Linked DNA regions of Homo sapiens. The protein of the gene in region 2 purifies or fractionates together with the protein of the main gene of each other region. This does not show direct contact. Each region holds a gene or a part of one and is shown on either strand. Other genes may lie near its edges.

Region 1 (8,078 bases), on a different chromosome or scaffold from region 2:
CCCAGCACTTTGGGAGGCCGAGGTGGGCAGATCACCTGAGGTCAGGAGTTCAAGACCAGCCTGGCCAACCTGGTGAAACCCTGTCTCTACTAAAAATACAAAAATTAGCTGGGTGTGGTGGCAGGTGCTTGTAATCCCAGCTACTTGAGAGGCTGAGGTAGAAGAATTGCCTGAACCCAGGAGACGGAGGTTGCAGTGAGCCGAGATTGTGGTGAGAAAGCGAGACTCCGTCTCAGAAAAAAGAAAAAAAAAAAAAGAGTCACTCTTTTCAGCTCCTATTTCCCTCAGAGTAAAGGCCAAGTCCTCCCCATGGCCTCCAAAGCTTGGCATAATCTGCATCTGTCCCCAGCCACCCCTCTCCCCTCACCCGCTCCAGCCTCCTCGCCCTTCCTTCATCACACCAGGCACCTCCCACTTTAGGGCCTTCGCACTGGCTGCTCCTTTGCCTGAAAAGCTTTTCCCTCGTGTATCTTTGGGACTCCCTCTCTCACTTCCTTCAGGTCTTTGTTCAAGCGTCACCTCCTCAGAGAGGCCTTCTAGACTACCCTATTTAATTGCAACTCTTCTACCCACCCCTCACTTCCTATCCCCATCCCAGCTTTATTTCTGTCCATGGCACGCAGAGCCATCTGAACTGCTGTTTTTCTTATTTATCTTGTTCACTGTGTGTCCCTGTCTGTGCTTCCCCTATAAATTCAGCTCCAACTAGAACATAAGTGTAAGGGCCTTCAAGAGGGCAGCACCTATTTTATTCACAGCTGTATCTCCAGCATCAGCAAAGGCCTAGCATGGAGTAGACTCAATTCGCATTCGCTGAAGGAAGGAATGGCAAAGCTGTGGGTTCTGTGTCCGAGTTCCTGGCTACAGGAGCAGGCTAGCTAAAGCAGCAGACTGTGCAGAGGGTGTGCCTGCTGTGCACTAGGCCCTGGGCATGGGAGAAGGGTGGCAGTGGCTGTGGACACATCAGTGACTAAGACACAGTTCCTGCTCTCGGATCTGCACGTCCACGCACACACACAATCCCCAGCAACATCTGCTAAAGGGTCCAAGAAGTAGCTGAGACCACCAGGGCTAGGCAAGAGCAGGAGGAAGCTAGGTTTTGCGGCATGTCTTCACTGATTACCTGGATCCACCACGGCATCAGGGAATTCCACCTCAGCCCAGCCTCTGTTTCAAGATCCGCTCATTCCACAAACACTGAGCACCTCCTCTGTGCCTGGCGCTGAGCTGAGTGGTGCTAAGGAAGCAGTGGTGATCAAGGCAGTCCTGGCTCTGCCCTCCTGGGGTTCCCAGTCCCCAGACAGTGAAACCCAGTAGGGCAGGGCTGGGACAGCGGAGCCCAGACAGTCAAAGAGGGCTTTCTGCAGGAAGGGACATCTGAAATCTGTAGGACTAATACACATCAACTAGCTAAAGAGGGGAGAGACCTGTGCATAGACTATGAGGAAAGAGACTGAGAGGCAATAAAAGAGGTTTAGAAATAAAATAGGTTCAGAGCAGCGGATCCCCTTTAGCGCAGTTGTTCTCACGCAGGGATGGCTTTGCCCCCCTGCTCTTGGAACATTTGGCAATGTCTGGAGACATATATGGTTGTCACAACTGGGGAGGGGCGTGGATCCTACTGACATCTAGTGCGTAGAGGCCACGGATGCTGCTAAACATCCTAAAATGCACAGGGCAGCCCCCCAAACAAAGCATTATCCAATTCAAAATGTTGATAGTGCCGAGCTCGAGAAATCCTAGTCTAGTCTGAAGAAAAGTGTCGGATCGTGCAAGACTGTGATTTATTAAAGAATTTGTACTTTGTCCTAAAGGCAAAGGGGTAACTCTTGATTGTTTTTAAGCAGAGTTGGTACAAGAGAAGATCAGAGTGCCATCTGGAAGCTCAGGGCAATGAGAACAACCTGGGCCCTGGTCTCTCAAGCCACCATCAACCCAATAATCAACAGAAACCCAGAGGGGAAACGACCTCCTTTCAGCAAGACTGGGAAACCCTTGAAGACAGGAACTGAGCCTTCATTCCAGCACTAACTCAACAAACATTTCCTAAGCTGTCCCTGAAGCCAGGCCCTGGCTGAGAATGCTGAAAAGATTCAGAGCAGATACAGTGGGCTCTATCACACAAATTTCATCCATGTGTCCTACCCAAGTGATACCACTTGCTCTTTCTCTGGGCTCCCCCAGTCCCTGACACAGACTTTTGTCACCAACCTAATCATTCAGGATTACAACTGTTTACATGTCAGTCTCCTCTCTTCGTCCCCTGACAGCAGGGATATGGCTGGCCCTCCTGTCCAACCTCTGCATTTAACACGGGAGAGATAAAGGCCTAAAGAGGGAAAGGAACTTGCCCAAGGTCACACAGAGAGTCAGCTTCATTCTCCCCTCTCAACCCGCACTCCTTTCCCCTGAGCTGCCTCCCACATGTCAGTGACATCCCAGTGGGTGGGTCGACAGCACCTTCATGTCTCTCCATCTATTCCCCAAATGCCTGAACGGTAGCTGCCTGAAATGGTATGCTCTGCAGTGTGTTAAGACAGCAGTGGGGCAGAAGTCATCCGCACCAGGACTAATTAACCCATAGAACTATTTTACATTAAAACCACAACCATACCAGTCCCTGTGTCAGCAGTGTCTTGTAACTTCTACATAAAGTTACAAACCTAACCAGGATGACCTTCTAGAAGCGCCTTAGTCTCACTGTTCCTTGAATTCCCGTCTGTAAAATGGGTCTGTCGGCCGTGCCCTGCTAATACTGACTTCCCCACAGCTAGAAAACTCCCAATTAATCACTGCGCACACCTCAAACACTACAACGAGACCTGAACGCCAGACCACTCTAGGAACGGCCTCAGAGCATGGAATCGCGGAGTTGAGAACCCAGCGCGCCAAGGTACAAGCCTGCGCCCCTCCGAGCCACTGTCTCCCCGGATCGAGCAATGAGCCTGGTGGCCGCCCGGCTCGAGCGTGCAGGGGAACCGACCCGCAACAGGGCCCTGTTCCCGGCACCGTCCGGCCTCCCGGGCGGTCCGGCCCTGCCTGGGCCGGGTATTCAAGGTCCCTCTGGCCAAGGAGCCCCCAGTGCACGGGATTCCGTGACAAGAGGTAGGACACGCCCCGTGGGAGGCCCCCCGGCTGGGGAAGAACCCCCTCAGTCCCCTCTCGGCCTCCGTACCTGACCGGAGCTGCCTCCCCCGGCCGCCACCACGGCGCTGCGGGCCCCGTCCGCCTCCTGCGCCGCCGCCATCTTCCCGCTCCGGGTCCCCGCCCCCGCCGCCAGCCCCGCCCCGTCCCCGACTTCGCAGCGCAATCGCGCGAGATTTCACGCTTTCCTAGCCCCGCCGGGCCACCCTATCCGGCAAGAGTGCCGCAGCCACGCCTCTCAGGAAGGCCACTTCCGGCTATGGAAGGACCAACCTGGCCACCGTACTCGTCTTTCTCCCAGCCCGTTTGTTTCCACCTAATAAAAACACTGTATGCTCCGAACTCCAGGACTTTCTCGGCCAGCATGTGCCTCCCGCAAGTTCTGTCCCTTCCGTCCCTTCACATTAACCCGCCTTTTCGGTTATATGAGCCTTTCGGGACATCCTGTCCGCTTCTCCCTGCCGATTCTTCGCGTCCTTTTCGTTCCATGTTTCTTGAGCTTTACCGGCCACTGTACGGCTTCGAACCACGCCCCTCTTTCGTCAGAGGAACCTTTCTGGCCACCGTATTCTGATTCGAAGAACTAGCCTTTTGCCCAGCACCCTTGTCTTCTGACCCCTCTTCCTAAGACAACTCTTTCGTTCAAGTCTCCTGAGCTCATATCCTTTCTGTGTTTTTAGAGTTCCAATTCCAGGGGTCTTACGGCCAACAAACCTCCGATGAGACCCTATGATACACCCCCAAGCCTTCGGACTGCCCTGCCTAGCACGCATGCGCGTTCCCTCAGTGGTCCAAACCTCGCATCCGTGGGCTAGGCTTCACGGGCTCTGAGAATTCCACAATTTTTCATTAGCTGTGTGTCTTCGTACAGCTCTAAACCCGGCCATCTGCTGAGAGACCCTTAGTTTGGAGAGGGTGTTACGGAGGCCCAGAGAGGACAAGACTCTCAGAGGCTGTTAACTGTTCACCCGTGAAATTGGGTGGATGTCTGGCCAGGGTTCTAACCCTTGTGGTGCTACTGACTGGATAAGATATCCTGGACAAGTGACGTCTCTCTCTCTCTTTTTTTTTCTTTTTTAGACGGAGCCTCACTCTCCCCCAGGCTGGAGTGCAATGGCGCGATCTCGGCTCACTGCAACCTCGGCTCACTGCATCCTCGGCCTCCCGAGTAGCTGGGATTACAGGAGCACGCCACCACTCCTGGCTAATTTTTTTTTTTTTTTTGAGACGGAGTCTCGCTCTGTCACCCAGGCTGGAGTGCAGTGGCGCGATCTCGGCTCACTGCAACCTCTGCCTCCCGGATTCAAGCAATTCTCCTGCGTCAGCCTCCCATTTTTTTTTTTTTTTTGTAAGTAGAGACGGAGTTTCACCGTGTTGGCCAGGCTGGTGACAAGTGACATCTATGTTTGAGCCTCAGTTTCTCCCCTTTTATAAACCAGGGATATAATCGTACTCGTTCTTCGTCTTCCCGTTTTGCCCCGCTGTGTTATTGGGAAGACGTAGTTAGATGGCGAATGGAAAACATCAGGCCCTGGGCCTCATGCTTAAGTGGTCAATATTTGGAGCGCTGTGATTATGAACCTTATATATTACCTGGAAAAAGAGTAAGCTTTGCATTGGGATATTCTGAATATATAATTATCATTTTATTATCGGTTTCCTCCACTTTCCTCTAGGTCTCAGCCCTGTAACAGTAGCTCTCGCTCTAGGAAACTCTCTCTGAGCCCTTTTCCTATCCTCCCTTGCCCCCTCAGCTCCTCCACCCCATCCCTGCTCACTTTGTGTCATCACTGTCAGGGATGGGTGTGTCTCCCCAACTGGGCAGGCTGACCTGGGACTGTTGTGGTCACTGCTGTATCTCCAGCACTGCCCTGGGGATGATTGCCCTGGGGATGAGGCTCTCTAGGTGCAGAAGGTGAGTGACTTACCTCTCTGAGGGCTAACACAGGACAAGAAGGAACCTTAGAAAACTTCGCTCCTCAGCCAGGCGCGGTGGCTCACGCCTGTAATCCCAGCACTTTGGGAGGCCGAGGCAGGCGGATCACCTGAGGTCGGGAGTTCAAGACCAGCCTGGCCAACATTGTGAAACCCCGTCTCTACTAAAAATACAAAAATTAGCCGGGCATGGTGGCGGACGTCTGTAACTCCAGCTACTCGGGAGGCTGAGGCAGGAGAATTGCTTGAACCCGGGAGGCAGAGGTTGCAGTGAGCCAAGATCATGCCACTGAATTCCGGCCTGGGCAACAGAGCAAGACTCCACCTCCAAAAAAGAAGAAAGAAAAGAAAAAGAAAACTCAGTGCCTCATCCTCACTGTTACAGACAATAATGGTGTTAATAACGATTCTTTGAATGTGTAGGCCCAGTCTTTTAAGTCCAGGGATGAAGTGAATAGACTAAGACAGGGATTGAGGAGAGACTTTGTGGGGTCTGAAGCTTATGTGTTTTGTGGGCCTCTTTTTTTTTTTTTTTTTGAGATGGAGTCTTGCTCTGTCACCCAGGCTGGAGTGCAGTGGCATGATCTCAGCTCAATGCAAGCTCCGCCTCCTGGGTTCACACCATTCTCCTGTCTCAGCCTCCGGAGTAGCTGGGACTACAGGCGCCCACCACCACGCCCAGCTAATTTTTTGTATTTTTAGTAGAGACGGGGTTTCACCGTGTTAGCCAGGATGGTCTTGATCTCCTGACCTCGTGATCCGCCTGCCTCTGTCTCCCAAAGTGCTGGGAGTACAGGCATGAGCCACCGCGCCTGGCCTGGCCTCTTTTAAAAAGTACAAAATTGGCTGGGTGTGGTGGCTCACACTGTAATCCCAGCACTTTGGGAGGCAGAGGCTGGTGGATCACCTGAGGTCGGGAGTTCGAGACCAGCCTGACCAAAATGGAGAAACCCCATCTCTACTAAAAGTACAAAATTAGCTGGGCATGGTGGTACATGCCTGTAATCCCAGCTACTTGGGAGGCCAAGGCAGGAGAATCGCTTGAACCTGGGAAGCGGAGGTTGTGGTGAGCCGAGATCATGCCATCGCACTCCAGCCTGGGCAAGAAAAGGGAGACTCTGTCTTGAAAAAAAAAAAGTACAAAATGACTTGTACAAATTTAGGTAGAGGACCATGGAAAGCCCAGGCAAGTGAGGGGCTTTGAAACTTTCTCCAGCCTCACTGCAACCCCAACTGCGCTCTCAGCTATAAATACAAACTGCTGCAATCTGCTCTCCAAGTCTCATACACTGCAAGGGCCAATGTGTTGGAGCATGATGAGGTCTAAGCTTCTCATGAGAAGTGTGACCTTGGACAGGGCTCCTGTGGAGGCAGGTTCCCTGCAGAGCCTTCCTATGCTCTGTGGAGTGACCAAATAAATTCTGCCATTCCGTCCAGGCTTCGTGGCTCATGCCTGTAATCCTAGCACTCTGGGAGGCTGAGGCAGAAGGATCGCTTGAGCCTAGGAGTTTAAGACCAGCCTTGGTGACATAGCGAGATCCTAGCTCTACTAAAAATTAACAAAATTAGGTGGTGTGGTGGCATCCACCTGTGGTCCAGCTACTCTGAGGCTGAGGTGGGAGGGATGCCGGAGCCCAGGAGTTCGTTCGAGGTTGCAATTAGCTGTGATCACATTACTGCACTCCAGCCTGGGTGACAGAGTGAGACCCTGTCTCTAAAGAAATTAAAAATCATAATAAGTAAAAAATTCTGCCATTCCTGCTGTATGTAAGTCACAGGACAGACCCACTCTTCTCTCCACTAGGGGGCGCAAAATACTGATCAAGGGCTGTGATTTCAGGTTCTAAGGGAGAAAGGGGGCTGGGGATCCAACCTTCTAGGTCCTGAGGAGAAGGGACTGGGGGGTCCCAGACTCCTGAGTTCTAGGGGAAGAAGAATCTAGGGGCCTGGACTCTGGGGGCCCTGAGGGGAATGGGGTTCTGAGAAAGAAAGGAGGAGTCTGAGGCCAGCACCAGGATTGGTTGGAAGCCGAACTGGTCCGGGCAGTGCTTTGGCTTGGCTTGAGTCCGTGGGAACCAAGTGGACACAGCAGGGATTGTTACTCCAGGGTCTTCCCCTCCCCACCACCCCCTGCACTTGGCAGCCTCTGTTCTTCCCAGGCCCCGGGGACTCGGGGGCATTGCCCACAGTCCCTCTCCAGGGCCCCTGTTTTTTACTGGACTCAGCTGCCCAGCCTCAGGACCTGGGAAAACTGCCCCAAGGGTGTTGAAAGCCTGGCAGGAGGTTAATGCCAAGCAGATTAGGAGAAATACAAGCAGTGGATCCCCAGAGACCAATAGCCCCACCCATGGGACTTGGGGAGCAGTACCACCCTGGACTCCCTCAGGATACAGGAATCTTGGCCCCCAGCCCCCTTCATTCATGGTCCCAGCACTGGCCTCCTTCAGACCATGGAGCCTCTGCTTATTTGCACCTTCTGCCTTCTGTGCTTTTTGCTTGCAATTTTTTTTTAATAAGTTTTTCTTTTTTTTTTTTAGAGACGGAGTCTCACTCTGCTGCCCAGGCTGGAGTGCAGTGGCACTATCTCCGCCTCCAGGGTACAAGCAATTCTCCTGCCTCAGCCTCCAGGTAACTGGGATTACAGGCGCGGGCCACCCCTAGCTAATTTTTGTGTTTTTATTAGAGACAAGGTTTCACCATGTTGGCCAGGCTGGTCTTGAACTCCTGACCTCAGATGATCTGCCCACCTCAGCCAACCAAAGTGCTGGGATTACAGGCGTGAGCCACCACGCCGGCCCTAGAGGTTTGTCTTCTTGGGTCCCAGCCAAGAAGTACTGACTTGGGCACCATTCTCCCTCTGCCACGGGACCATTATACACTGATTGCAATGGCACGTTTAAAGTGTCAGCCCAGGCCTGGTGCGGTGGTTCACACCCGTAATCCCAACACTTTGGAAGGGCAAGGTGGGCAGATCGCTTGAGCCCAGGAATTGGAGACTA
Region 2 (7,622 bases):
TGGCTCCAGCCAATGGAGACAGGACACAGTAGCAGGGACAAGCTGCATAAGGGATACGAATTACTTCCCTCCATTGTTCAGGTGTGCTGTCACCATTGTGCCATCTGTGAGGAGCACTCTTTCTGCAGAAAGTAAAATTGCCTTGCTGAGAAAACTTTTTGTCTGAATGCTCATTTTTCCTTGTGGTACTGAGGAACAAGTATTCTGTTTCTGAATAAATATTTTACATATAACAATATCTTTGTTTTTCAAACTTCTCTCTTTTTCCGTTTTCTTTTCTCTTTTCCTATTTTTCTTTTCTTTTCACTCTTGACCTCTTATGATGACCTTTTCCTCCATTGAAGTGCTAATTGATTTTTCATTTTCTCCTTATTTCAAAATTTATTCACATCACAGAATATGGTATAAGTCATTCACACTGCAGTTAGAATTATTCAGTATTTCCATGAGTCATTTCTCAGAAGGGAATGTATATCAAAAGGAGAATATTTTATGGCTTAAATTATTAAATTATTACAGTGAGTATTGTGGAATCAAAATTCCTCACTCAGCAGACAGGTTCTTTGAGAGGGATATAATGGTCACCACTCACGTAAACTATGGTTTTTAGCTCTATGGAAGGCGTCCGCTGACAGAGCAGCCAGAGAGTCAAGCAGCATGAAGGCAAAAGCAGGTGGTAGTGGAGGGTCACCCTAAAGTCTCTTGTCAGGAGGTTATATATGATATTAAGGTTCTCTCCTGGAGTCTGAAGAATCTTGTATATCAAAAGCCCATACTGAATAGGGCATGTCAAGGAGGACAATTTTTTTTTTGGTCTAATGGTAATGGTAAGAGTAGGAGAGAGAGAAGAGGCTACAAACATTGTAATACAGATCATCCCCAATTAGTATTCACAAAGTTTATTCTAATTCAGTTGTATATTCCCTCAATCACCCTAAATCACAGAAGCAGTCTTTCTCAGAAATGGAAGGCATTTCAGCCCAGCTTCCTATCCCAATAGGAGTCCCTTTTACAAGCATCCAGGTGGCTTATCATTTAGCCTTTGCTTGGATGCTTTCTTCAATGGGAAACCCACACCTTTCTGAGGCAGCTCATTGGGATTTTTTTCCAAGGTCAGTGGGGAAAAAAACCCAGGTATTTGGGGCATATAGTGTACCTGGTGATTGTTACTGATTTACTATTTTGCCCACATCTTGTCTTTTGTTCGTGATAGTTCTGTGGGAAATGCCTATTCCTGGTATACCAGGAACTCTCTTGTTCTTCCTTTGACCCTCATCCCTAAGTTACAACAATAACTTAATCTCCCACTATAATTTGTTTCCCCAGAAACAGAAAATAAGGTTTTTGGGATGAGGGTGAAATGAGACAGAGTCATTACTAGTAAATTTGACTCCTGGAGCATGACTTTGCCATTAAATCAACTTTTGGGTCAAGGTGTGGCTCACAGTCGAGTGTTAGAAACAGTGTGTTTCGTCTAGCAGTTTTCTGTTGTAACACTCTGGATTGCTTACTCAGTGCTCTATTTTGAAACCATTATGTGATTTTAAAAAATTTCTTCAGGCTGGGCGTGGTGGCTCATGCATGTTATCCCACTTTGGGAGGCTGAGGCCGGCAGATCACTTGAGGTCAGGAGTTTGAGACCAGCCTGACCAACATGGAGAAACCCCGTCCCTATTAAAAATACAAAAATTAGCCAGGCGTGGTAGTGCATGCTTGTAATTCCAGCTACTAGGGAGGCTGAGGCAGGAGAATTGCTTGAACCCAGGGGGTGAAATTTGCAGTGAGCCGAGATCACGCCCCTGCACTCCAGGCTGGGTGGCAGAGTGAGACTCCATCTCAAAAAAAAAAAAAATTTCTTCAATTCAAGTGTCTGGATGCAAAATCCTATGACCATTAACTAGTGACACTCTGGGTTAAGGAATAGGTGCAAGCTCCCATGTCCCCAAAGCTTAAGCCTCCTCAGTCCAGACTGAGGGCTGGGGAGGGGGCTCCTTTCCCTGGTGATTCAAATTGAAGAAAAGACAGGTTCTCCCATAAGGTCAAGGTTTGGAATTTACATTCTGCCATCACTCTCCAAACGCAGGGGTGACTTTATAATGAAATCAGGCAAAAACTCCTACTAGGGCAATAACGGTCAGGTGTGAGCCTGGTCTGAGAGCCTAGCAGGGGGTAAGCAGAGAGTTTGAGGGTAACAGTCAACAGTCTTACAGATGGATGACTTACCTATGTTATCATAGGGAATTACGATGCTCCCAGAGTCGACCCACATTTTGGTATAGATAAGGAGGCACAGCGGCATCATTCCGAGGGCAAGCAGTGTGGAGCATGTGGTCATGCTGACGCTGAAAGGCAATGGGCAGATTGATACATCCACCTGTGGTGTTCTAGGGAAGATGCTGTTTTATTTTTATTTTTTAATTTAACTTTTATTTTAAGTTTAGGGGTATATGTGCATGTTTGTTATATAGGTCAACTTGTGTCATGGGGGTTTGTTGTACAGATTATTTCATTGCCTAGGTATTAAGCCTAGTACCCATTAGTTATGTTTCCTGATCCTCTCTTTCCTCCCACCCTCCACCCTCTAATAGGCCCCAGTGTCTGTGTTCCCCTCTATGTGTCCATGCGTTCTCATCATTTAGCTCCCACTTATAAGTGAGAACATGCAGTATTTGGTTTTCTGTCCTTGTGTTACTTTGCTAAGGATAATGGCCTCCAGCTCCATCCATGTTCCTGCAAAAGACTTGATCTAGTCCATTTTTATGGCTGCATAGTATTCCATGGTGTGTATGTACCACATTTTCTTTATCCAGTCTATCATTGATGGGCAATTAGGTTGATTCCATATGTATGCCATTGTAAATAGTGCTGCGGTGGACATATGTGTGCATGTGTCTTTATAATAGAACGATTTGTATTCTTTTGGGTATATACCCAGTAATGGGATTGATGGGTTGAGTGTATTTCTGTTTTTAGGTCTTTGAGGAATTGCCACACTGCTTTCCGCAATGGATGAACTAATTTACACTCCCACCAACAGAAGATAAGTATTCCTTTTTCTCTGTAACCTCGCCAGCATCTGTTAATTTTTGCCTTTTTAATAATAGCCATTCTGACTGATGTGATATGGCATTTCATTGTGGTTTTGATTTGCATTTCTCTAATGATCAGTGATGTTGAACTTTTTTTCATATGATTGTTGGCTGCATGTGTGACTTCTTTTGAGAAGCATCCGTTCATGTCATTTGCCCACTTTTTAATGGGTTTGTTCATTGTTTTCTTGGAATCTAATTAAACTAAAGAGCTTCTGCACAGCAAAGGAAACTATAAGCAGAGTAGACAAACAACCTCCCGAATGGGAGAAAATTTTTATTTTCGATTCATGATAAGAAAGTCCTGCAAGAATCTGTCTCAACCTGTAGCATCGTCTGGTGTGATGAACAGTAATATACATGTGCCTATGTGCCTGAGTGTATTCAGGGCCTGGCCTTGAGCAAAATGGGCCATATTTGGTGTCTTTCCACTTTGCCTTGTGCCGTCCTTCCCTCCCCTTTTATTCTTAAGGGTCAGAAACAGTATTAAACGATGGGTTAAAGTCATCATTAAATAATGTATAAGGTTCGCTGGGTGTGCCATCCTTCAAACATTCAATCAAAGAACAGCAAACACATTTAAAGCAGCTGACACCACCAAGGCTGCATGTGTCTGACCATGCTGAGATGGAATGGGCCTCCCTGGGCCCCTGGAATAGAATGCATGTCCGAGGGAGGAGGCCTCGCTGTGTTGCCATAAAGCAGAAAAATTACTGCCCAAGTGACCCTAGCTTGGGACAAGAAGCGGAAGCTGACTTAAAAATCAAAAGAAAGCATGCAAGCGGCAGGGTAGACATAAATTCTTAGCACTGAGTAAGTTATTGGCAATTTGGCAAATGTGTGTTCAGAAGAACTAGTGTCTGGTATCATCCCTGCTCAGAGTGTTTGCATTTTAATAAGAGGGTCTGGCTGAGTAGGCTATCTACATGGAGACATTAATGCCAAATGATGCTATCTCTAGTACTAGGACAGTGGGTCAAAGAAAGATTTTTGGGGAGTGAGTCTTCCGGGTCCTCTTCAAAGGGATCTGTACACAGCGTACATTCTCTGCCTTTAAAGCCTGAGCTCTAAAGCCACACACTGTCTGGGCTGAAAGCAGGCGGTGCCACTTAGTGTGTTAATTTGAGTAATTTAGTTGACTTCTCTTTACCAGTTTCCTTATCTAAAATGGCTGTAAGGATAGAATGAGCCAATGGTGTCCGGCACTTAGACCAATGCAAAGCACTCTATTAAGAGCTGGTTGCTACTACCATTTTTTTTTTTTTTTTTTTTTTAAATAGGGTCTCTCTCTGTCACCCAGGCCAGAGTACAGGGTCACCAACTTGGCTCACTGAAGCCTGGGCTCAAGTGATCTTTGCACCTCAGCCTCCCGAGTAGCTGGGAATACAGGCATGAGCCACCATGCCAGGCTAATTTTTAAATTTTTTGTAGAGATGGGGTTTCACCATGTTGTCCAGGCTGGTCTCAAACTCCTGGGCTCAGGTGATCCGCTCGCCTAGGCCTTCCAAAGTGCTGGGATTACAGGCGGGAGCCACCGCACCCTGCATCTCTCTGCTGTGATCATTTATGTTACCATGTTTTTGTATCTTGTGTTCCACCAAATAGAATCGGGAAACTTAGAGAAATGAGAAATTTCTCTGAAAGGCCCTTCTCTCAACAGGTCGTCATTGAGGTTGTCAAGAGTAGTAATTTCTTAAGGGTATTATGGGTGTACTTGAAAGAAAATGTTAAATATTTATATTACCTGCCCCCCAAAACAACAACAACAACAACACACTATACTAAGAAAGGAGCTAACAATGAGAAATTTTGTTTCAAGGCACAGTTAAATTTGCACAGTTTGGCAAAATACAGGGTGGGACAAAGTTCATCAGAGAGCTTAACTTCTCTAATAATATATTTATTTTTAACCAGAATGACCTCATTTAAAATAGGCTTAAATAATTTAGATAAAAATACTTGTTTTAGTAGAGCTAAAATATTACAACAGTAACAAATAATGTGGATGTATTTAAAACTTTAAGCAGTTCAATCTATTCTGGTTATAGGTAAATTTAGGCATGAAATAGATGCTAAGGCAGAATTGTACACCAGACAAACAAGTTAATTTGTTATTAATAGTACTTTGTCCTACTTATAATGAAAGTACTGGAGTTTGAAGGTAATTTTTTTCTCTGTTCCTTCCTCTCTTCTTTCAGTGTTCTCTTTTTTTTTATTTTATTTTAAAAAATATATTAGAATGGATTTAAAGTTGTCCCTATAATAAAATCACTTTTTTTTCTGTGCATCCAATATTTTTTTCTAGAGTGTGGTGGGAATCTGGTGGGGAAGTGAGGAGGATTTATTAACTGGGTTCCAGTGAAGAGAAGTCTGAGAATTTTTGTTTTAAAATGTGAGAAAATGTTTAAGAAGGAAGTCTTTTTCTGTCTTTGTTTTTTTTTCAAAGATCCTTGCAAAACCTTTAATTCTGAATATTGCTAAGACAATCTATGACGTTGTATCATAATTTTGAGTTTGGTGAGAGCAGTTTCTTAAGGATCGTGATGAGGGACAAAAGAGGGTTTGGAGAAGGAAAGGTTTAGACTTGTGAGCAGCACTGACGAAGAGACCTTGCAGATGAACAGACGAATAGGTAGCTGGAAGTTGATGCTATTTGAATGAATATAAGAACAAAATCAAACCACTCAAAATGAGATTTAAAACAATTCACAGATAACGAATTTTAAGAAATAATATAGAAGCCTAAATTAGCAAAAGAAAATATTATCTTACACGAAAAAATCTGAAGTTCTATAAAAGGCATGTATATAAAAAATACATACACTGCCTTGAATTTATATTAGACTGACAGAAAAGAGTCAAGTATAAGAAAAATAAAAAAAAAATCTTGGTCTTAATTTTGACTTCAGCTCTATTAACTGCCAGGGAGATTTTCTTTTGTGTGTATGGAAATAAAAGAAAGAATAAATGTAAATTTAGTGAATGTTGAGGAATTCAGTGAAATCAGTGTTAAGCAATGTAAAAGATTGTAATCATATTAGAAGTAAAATACCAAGTTTGAAGGCTCTAACGTAGCGTATATAGGCAGTGCTAGAAACTGGAGAAGTGAAAAGTGATAGAAGCAGTGTAGAGAAAGCTTATGAGCCTGCAAAGTGGTAGTGGGTAGACCTGGGTGATTCCAATTCTGACTCAGGCATACATTGACTCAATGACCTTGGTCAAGGTTATGAATCTTAACTTCATTATCTGCCAAATGCAGAAAATAATAGTACTAACTTTAGAGGATTCTTGGGAGGATGAAATATACCAACTTATTTTGAGTACTTAGCACTGTGCATGGCATATACTAGTGTTTAATAAATATTAGCTAGTAAAATCAGTGCTACTGGAGAGAAACAATGTTTGGTTACTTTTAGGGAGAATAAAGGAAAAAGCCGAATGGTTTTGGGTTAGGTCTCCCAGAGTAGAGAAGAGAAGGACATTTATGGGGTTGACATAGGAAGGATTGATTGCTGTGAATTTGTGGTAAGCTACAGGGTGAGATTTCTTGAATATCTAAAATATCAATGAATGCTGCACTGGAAGCTGAAAAATCTAACAGCATTTGCCCAAAGAACAAAGGATGTGGTAGGAAAGTCTGTAAAATAATAAAAAGGAATGTAGAAAGTAGGTGGCAGGGAAGGAACTGGGGGCAACTGGGAGAAGGATGCATAAGAATGGATTCCCCAAAGAGGAAGCCAAAGAAAGGAAATGAGAAGTCCTTGCATGGTGTCGCTGAGGCCATTAAGAAGGATGAAGACACCGGATATTTGCCTGTGTCTGGGGAGAGAGCAGACAAAAAGGAGATAGGATGTTTCTGTGTCCTCTCAACTATGGGTTTTGGCCACAAGCAGATTCACCTGAAAAGTCACCATCTCTTCTCCCTGATGCTTTTTGTGCATGTGATGTCCATGGCACAGCTGCAACTTAGGTGAAAATATATGTGCACCAATCAGATTCACAAACTCCAGGCTGGGAGTGGTCAGAGAAGGAGCTGAAATAGTACTTGCTGGATTCCAATGATCAAGGACTATTGTCTATTTTTTTTTTGTTTTTCAAAGTCACTAGAGATTGCAAAATGCGGTGGCTTTCCAGGTTCATAAGAGATGACAGAGTGAGAGAGAAATGTTTTGGTTTCTTCTCCCAAGAACCATAACCAAGAGAGTTAAAACCAGGTGGAATGGTTTTGCTGGCATTGTGTGGCATTAGCTCAATTAGTGTAGCTGCCTGTTAACATAAACAGTCATGTCTTCATGCCATTGCTGGAGTTCAAGTGGAGATGGAGAAGGTAAAATTCTAAGTGTACACAACTGGAAATATAAATGTTAGATAGGATTGTATCTAAGTAAATTATCAGGAGACTTTAGTTATCCAGTTCTTAATCCAGAAGAATAAAAAGTTTTGGAAAACTGTTACGCAATAGCTCAGGTTTTACCCTTTTAATTAATTTGTATTAAAGAAATATTGGAATATTGTTTTCCTAACACACAATGC

What was found.
Region 1: the proteins of SLC10A2 (region 2) and CLPTM1 purify together in Homo sapiens (affinity purification with mass spectrometry; 2 studies listed by BioGRID and IntAct, with this or other methods). This does not show direct contact.

Annotation. Positions count from the first base shown.
Region 1 is NC_000019.10:44,950,565-44,958,642, reverse strand, and holds the start of CLPTM1 (putative lipid scramblase CLPTM1), read right to left. Parts: upstream 3,264-8,078; 5' UTR 3,248-3,263; coding exon 3,176-3,247; intron 1-3,175. UniProt on the Homo sapiens protein: Involved in GABAergic but not glutamatergic transmission. Binds and traps GABAA receptors in the endoplasmic reticulum (ER).
Region 2 is NC_000013.11:103,056,041-103,063,662, forward strand, and holds part of SLC10A2 (ileal sodium/bile acid cotransporter), read right to left. Parts: intron 2,343-7,622; coding exon 2,224-2,342; intron 1-2,223. UniProt on the Homo sapiens protein: Plays a critical role in the sodium-dependent reabsorption of bile acids from the lumen of the small intestine. Transports various bile acids, unconjugated or conjugated, such as cholate and taurocholate.